Linked DNA regions of Homo sapiens. The protein of the gene in region 1 purifies or fractionates together with the protein of each later gene. This does not show direct contact. Each region holds a gene or a part of one and is shown on either strand. Other genes may lie near its edges.

Evidence for each region.
Region 2: the proteins of FAM117A (region 1) and COBLL1 purify together in Homo sapiens (affinity purification with mass spectrometry, with the first as the bait; one large-scale study listed by BioGRID). This does not show direct contact.

The regions. Positions count from the first base shown.
Region 1 is NC_000017.11:49,761,332-49,765,538, reverse strand, and holds the start of FAM117A (protein FAM117A), read left to right. Parts: upstream 1-1,407; 5' UTR 1,408-1,451; coding exon 1,452-1,647; intron 1,648-4,207.
Region 2 is NC_000002.12:164,679,471-164,682,563, forward strand, and holds the end of COBLL1 (cordon-bleu protein-like 1), read right to left. Parts: 3' UTR 718-3,093; downstream 1-717.

The DNA.
Region 1 (4,207 bases):
CTAATTTTAATATTCAACCCACTCTTGAATTTCCACTTTGGGTATTATCTACTTTCAATATTTAATCCCAGAATGACTTCTCTTTGCCTCACAGCAGGCTCCCAGATTACCTCTTTTTCTCTGATTAGTTAGTATGGCTTCAGGGAATATCTTCTTTTTAACATTAAACTGGGCAAAAACAGAAATAGAAAGAAAAATCTGTAGCAAGATCAAAAATAGAATTCACAGCTAAATATAAATCTGGAGGGAATTATTCAATTATTTGAATGGTCCCCAATCACAGACAATCCAGGGTTGATTGACTTTTGCTTTTTCCATATGTAGAACAAAATGGTTAACAAATACCAAGAGTAATATTTTTTTTCTTTTGAAGCATAATACTTTTTAATAGTATCTTAAATGTTATTTTCTTTCCCAAATCCCTTTATATTATTATATCATGTGCTTTTCACAACTGCATGCATTCTCTTTGGGGACCTTCCAGTCTCATTCTGACTTGTAAGTCAGAGAGCATTGATCTTGGAAGACCAGGATTTGTTAACGGAGTCGCGGTGCAAACTTGGGCAAGTTTTTCAGTTGCTTTGTTCCTTTCACTCTGCTGAGCTAGACTTGGAGTGGACGACTCTGAAGGGAAATTCCCTGCTTCTTTTCAGAGTCCCAATTTAATTTACAGGCTAGCAATTGTTTTTTTAAGGTTGGATCAACACCAAGTAGGGACTTGGAAACGTGGAGAAAGACAGATGTAAGTGTCACACGAGGCAAGGTCGCCATTAAATACACAAATATAATGCAAATCACATGCAAATGATATGCAAACCTTGCATTAATTTGTAGGATCTTAGTTTGGAGCTTGTAAGTAGCACTGAGATCCTATAAGGATTTAAAACTAATGTTTTTTAGGTTAAATTAAATGTAATACTTTTTGAAGGTATCGCTTTCTCTGTGATTCAGGGACTCAACTGTGTAAAGTTTGACACTGCTCCCTACTCCCGCCCCCAAAAATTATTTCACTAGTGTTTGACTCCAACCTACACCCAGCGCCGCGCCCACTCTCCAGCTCAGCCTGACGTCACGTGACATTATATTTGCATACTACCTGGGACTGGGTGTGACGCTCCCCTATTCTGCGTCTTCTCATTGGTGGCGCTGGAGAACCAGCCCTCTTCTGTACAGGCCAATCAGCAGCCCCTGGGATGTTGGAAAACCGAAGGGGGCGGTGTGAGGGTGGGGTCTTGGCTTGGATCGCTAGGCTCATCGACCAATCATCCTCAGGAAAGGGAAGGCTAAGCTGTGGATTGGCTGGGGTGGAAGGTCTGGGTTTCCGCAGTCCAATGACAGCTCTAGGATGAGGGGGCCGGTCCCCGCCCCGTACAGCAGATAAGCAGCGGCCTCGGGGGTTGGGGGGCTGTGTGAGTCTCGCAGTGGGGCTGAGGCAGGCAGCCGGGAGAGCCATGGCGGGGGCCGCAGCGGGCGGCAGAGGCGGAGGTGCCTGGGGGCCGGGGCGCGGAGGGGCCGGGGGGCTCCGGCGGGGCTGCTCTCCCCCAGCCCCCGCCGGCTCCCCCCGGGCTGGGCTGCAGCCGCTCAGGGCCACGATCCCCTTCCAGCTGCAGCAGCCGCACCAGCGCCGGGACGGGGGTGGCCGTGCAGGTGAGCCGGGCCTGGAGCGGGTGCCGTGGAAGGAGCCATTGGGGGAGGGGGGGCGCGTGACCGCGGGAGGGGGACGGGGAGAAGTGTGAGGGGAAAGTGGATGGGGGCGAGGGAAGAGAAAGGGGGCGTTCAGAGTCTATGAGGGCGGAGGGAGCAAGAGCGAGGAGCCGTGAAACGTGGGGAGCACCGCTGGGACGGAGTGTGCGGGGAGTCGGGTCCCGGAGGTGAGGGGAGGGACCTGGCAGATGGAGGCTGGCTTTGGGGGCGTAACCGAAAAGTGGGCAGAGGTGTCGTGTGGGGTGAGTGGAAGATGCAGGGGGTGGGAGCGAGGCGTGAGGAGGAGTGGCGCGTGGTGGGGGCGCCCCGTGCGGATGGCTGGCGCTGGGAGCAGGAGTCGGTGGGCGCTGGACTATTGCACGGGGAGGGGGAGGGGCATGGAGTAGAGCCCCGTGCAGCCGTGTGTTACTTCTCCAGCTTGAGTTTGGCCCCAGCATCCCTCTCAACTGCGCTGGAGTTCCATTCTCCACCACTTCACGTGCGCTTCCCTTTATGCCACCTCCTGGAACTGATTTCATCTCAGCCCGCTGGACTAAGTTTAACGGCTTTTACCGTGGTGCAAATGCCCAGCTCCCTGCATTCTTCTCCCTGTGTCCCAGAAGTTGTACGTTCCCAGATTCTTGACCTGCTTAATATGGCTGTCTCATTCCAACCATCGTTTGTGTACGAGCGTGTGTGTGTGTGTGTGTGTGTGTGTGTGTGTGTGTGTGTAGCGGGGGGGAGACCTGGGCAGTTTTGCCCCCTACCTTTCTTTCTACTCCCTCCACCCCTCTACCCACCAAGGCTGTTTTGTCCGGGGCATTGCAGCCAACGTGGCAGTGGGGTGAGGGCTACAGTCAAGTGCATGGTGGCAAGTACCCCACTTTCTGAACAGCACTGAAATGGGTTCTTAATAACAGCTTGATGTGGTGGCTGTGGGGAAACTAGGGAGAAGCAAACTTAACCTTGCTTTGATACTCAAATCTGTGAGGATCCCACAAATGCAAGTACTTAGGAAGGGGAAAAGGAACCTACTTGCATGAGGAGGTTGGCAATAAGTTGAAAGTGAGGCTTGCATTTGATTCACACCAGATGTGAAAAGATCATTGCACACTTCCAAAGCCGGAGCCTCTACCAAATGTACAAAAATCATGATTCCTGCCGTCTTAACGGTTAATGACATTCTCTAAACCAGAGTCTCTTGAGCTTCTGATGATTACCAAGCCTAGTTACTGCACATCTCCTTCCTGCTTCTGCAGGGCTATTACAGAAGTAGTAGCTACTACAGGGCTACTCCTTGCTAGGTAGGAATGGGCTTAAGAGGATCTCTGAGATAGAAAGCCCCCAAGTCTTTCTGGACTTTTCACTGTATATGTTAGCATCACATCTTGGGATGCAGAAACTTGGTCAAATCTGGTAGCAAGATGGTGACCAAGTAGTAAAAGTATGTTTAGAATCCGGTGGTGTAGAGTAAGGCAATGCCCAGACTAACTCATGCCTATCATGAGTTATAAAGCAAACCACAAGACTACAAACCTGTTGGTTTTGTTTGGGCTTCCTTGAAACCCCGGGAAGTTGGTAGAACAAGAACCGGAACCTTAGTCACTTTTAGTGGAAAACAACAGAAAGCCTACCTGTATAGTAGCTGGAAACTGATTAGCAATCATTTTAAGATCAGTTATTTTGTGTCTATTATAGAACTAATATTAAAAGGACAATTGCTGGTGGATGCTGTGGAAGGGGGAAGAACGTAGGTTTGGATGTCTGGGTTCATTACATGGCCTGCTCCTTTTATAGAGCCAGAGGCCCTGGGATACTGGTAGAAATGTAGGAAGCTAGAGCTCTGCATAATTTGTCAGGTGATTTAAGGCAAGTTGGGTGGACTCTTGCTTATAGATTGGTCTGATCAATAATTTGTCCACCTATTAATATCTTAGAAGTGTTAATAAGGCATTCGCCTAGTTGGTAGTTGGGGGGATTATCTGTAGATTTTCAGTATGGCAGGAGAGGGGAAAAAATAGGAGAAGAAAGTGGCCAGGCATTAGGGGAATGTACCTGGCCTCTGTTTTGGAGGCACATCAGGGCTTTTATATGTTAACTTCAGCCCACATACGTGTTCACATTATTTCCATTCCTTGGCCTTGGAAAGCACCAGAGGTGGTTTTTTCTAGGACAGTAGAGTATATGGGATAAAAGGAAACCCCTTGTAGTCATAAACCTTTAAGAGATTGGCACTGGGAGCTGGAATGCCTGGGTTTTAAATCCAGGTTCTGCCATTTACTAGTTGTGTGGCTTTGAGGAAGTTCTTTCTGTGTCTTAGTTTCCTCATCTGTGGATAATAATATCTATATCATAAGAATTAAATGAGTTAATAGATAGAAAGTGCTTAAAACGTGCCTGGCACATGAGAAGTGCTATAAAAGTGTTTGCTGCTGCTTATATTATTATTCCCTCTGCTCGCCAAGGTGAGAGCACTGTTGGCCAGAGCCCATTGCCTTTTCAGGCTTCAAAGAGCAAACCCAGA
Region 2 (3,093 bases), on another chromosome or scaffold:
ATTGGAATAAGGCAGCAGAGTATAGCAGAAAAAAATGGGGCCATGGTATCAAATATGTCTTCAACCCCAGCACCACCCTAGGGTGCTCTGAACTTCATGAGTAAAATGTGATAAAAATCTACCTCAAGGGACATGTAGCAGAGTAAATGGTAGAGAACTGGTATTTAAATTTCATTTTCCCTATTTCTCTCGTCCCTCTTAAAAATAATGCCGTGTTCCAAGAACAGAAAACCAAACACCGCATAAATGGGAGCTGAACAATGAGAACACATGGACACAGGGAAGGGAACATCATACACTGGGCCTCTCGGGGGGTGGGGGCGGGGGCTAGAGGAGGGATATCATTAAGAGAAATATCTAATGTAGACGATGGGTTGATGGGTGCAGCAAACTACCATGGCACATGTATACTGATGTAACAAACCTGCATGTTCTGCACATGTATCCCAGAACTTAAAATATAAATATAAATAATAATAATAATAATAATAATACTGTGCTCCATCAGATCTTGCAGTGTATGGTGTTTTTTAGTTAAAACTGAACCATAACACCCTTAATTAACTTTGCTAATAGTGAGATGCTTTTGCCAAATTCCTACTTGCCTCCAATCATCTATCCTGACTTGACTAACATTCTTAATGGGTGGAAGGAGAACAAATGGCCACAAATTAAATGTCTTTATCCATATGAATAGAGTGCAATCGGTCACTGTAACAGGAGTGTCTCAATAATTTATTTATTGACTTTATTATAATTTCAAACATGCAGACAAGTTAAAAATCATGTACAATATAACCCACATACCCACCACCTAGATTTAACAATTGTAACCGTCATAATAATAATGTAGAGAGTAATGATGACATTACCAAAATTTCCTAAGTATATTATTTTCTGATCCCTTGAAGGTATCCAAAACCCACCAACAGAAATCATCCAAAAAGTTTCTTCACTATGAACCCTTCAGTGAACTTTTCCCCATTCATAACATGGGGGCATCGCTGAGGGAGAACTACCAAGGAGCACACAGGGTGAGTTACTCTTTTCCGTAATGACGCCTCTTGGTTTCTTGACTTAGGGAGTCCTGGGCCTGCTCACTTCTATTACTCATATGGCAGATTCTGCTTCTTCCTTCTTTGTACACTTTCAGGTTTTCAATGAAATAGCACAGTTGCCAGATTTAGCTAAGAAAAATACAGGATGCCTAGTTAGCTTGAACGTCAGATAAACAATATAAAAATATAAGTATATCCCAAATATTGTATGGGATATGCTTATACTAAAAAAAAATTTGTTGTTTATCCGAAGTTCAAATTTAACTGGGCATTCTGTATTTTATCTTGCAATCCTGTGAAATAGACAAATTTAATGACCTTCTGAAGGGGGTCTAGATGACTTTGACAGCTGGGCTCTCATGCTTCTAGGTCTGAAGACAAAATGAGAGAAAACTATAGAGAAAGGGAGAGAATATACTTTTGCACTACGACTAAGAAAAAAAATATTTAGAATTGCTTTTAACTGGTTGGGAGCTAGACAGAAAGTCTGAGGTGTATTTGTGTTGGATTTAGTAAGTCATCTGTGAGATTCTGGAGGAAACAGCGTTGTGGAACTGAACAGACTGAATCAATTTATGATTAGGGTTAGAGTCATATGTGTATGGTTTGTTTAACAGGGTGTATTGCACCTATTGCCACATTAATGCTGTATATAAACCAACCACAAACCTTGGTGGTATTGCTGGGGTAAGCATTTATTGCTTACACATCAGAGTAAACTGGGGGCCTGGCTCTTAGGTGATCTAGGCTGGCCTCAGTTGGGAGCTCTGCTCCCTGCATCTCTCATCCTTTTCTTAGGACCATTCAGCTGTTTCAGAGATGTCTTTCTCACAGCAACATTTCAAATACAGTGAAAGCAAGCAGAAACACATGAACCTTTGAGGGCTGGTCTTAGAACTGGCACAGTGTCATTTTCACTTCATTCTGTTACTCTCAAAACCTGCTCCTATGGGTGGGAGAGGGGGCTCTGCCTCTTTAATGAGAGGAGCTGCAAAGTCACACAGCAAAAGGTACGGATGCAAGAGAGGGAAAGAACTGAGGCCATCACTGCTATCACAGCAAAAGGTATGGATGCAAGAGAGAAAGAATTGAGGCCATCACTATGCCTATCGCTATCGCAAGGCGTGGGCTGGAAACTAAGAATAAACTGGGGAGCAAAAAAGTTGCTTCTTTTTGAAAACTATACATTTGTTTGCAACTGTAGCATTTTTTTTCTTCTCCAAGAAAAGTAATTAGCAAGACTTACAAATGATTTTTTCCAGTTTGTGAAGCAGAGATGCCAACAGATCTCTACAAATTACCAGAATGTTCCACAACTCTTCTCAAAATACCTGTCAAAAAAGTTCTGAGCACATGGTGGCATTTTTTCCTTGTTGTAAACACAATGTATCTATATGAACAGTCTAACATATTAAGGATGGAAATTTGCAGGAAAGTGGTAACATTTAAGAGAAAAGGAAAACCAACTGAAGATTCAGAACAAATAACTTCCTATTCTGGTATCCCTTGAAATCTAGCACCAGTTTCTTCATCATTTGCTACATTTAGTCATGGGGAAGAACAAATTAGTAATTGGATGTGGGACTCTGAGACTCCTCTGCTTCTGTGACCTTTGTAAAGTAGCAATCTTTGCACACCTTTTAAATATGTGGATCAAATAAAAATCTTGTTGTCAACTCTGAAATAGCAAATAAATAGGAGATATTTTTACATCTAAAACCTCAGAAATCACTTTGACCCTGGAAATCTTCACTATGACCTCTAATTGCAAGTTCTTTTCTTTCAAGTCAGTTATCAAAATCAGTAGATTTTAAAAATGATGAGTTTGATTCTTAGTTCTTTGATACTTATTTTCTCTACTGGTAGTGGGTACAAAGTAAACTGGAATTAGACACATACATAATTGTATCAATTGGGACGCTTTGGGTTTTAAGCACCTATAAGTAACTAAGTCTCAGGACAAAGATTGGTCTCATTTCAAGGACTTGGATAAGATGACAGAGTGTGTATGCTGTTGCCAGTGCCTAGTGGCCAA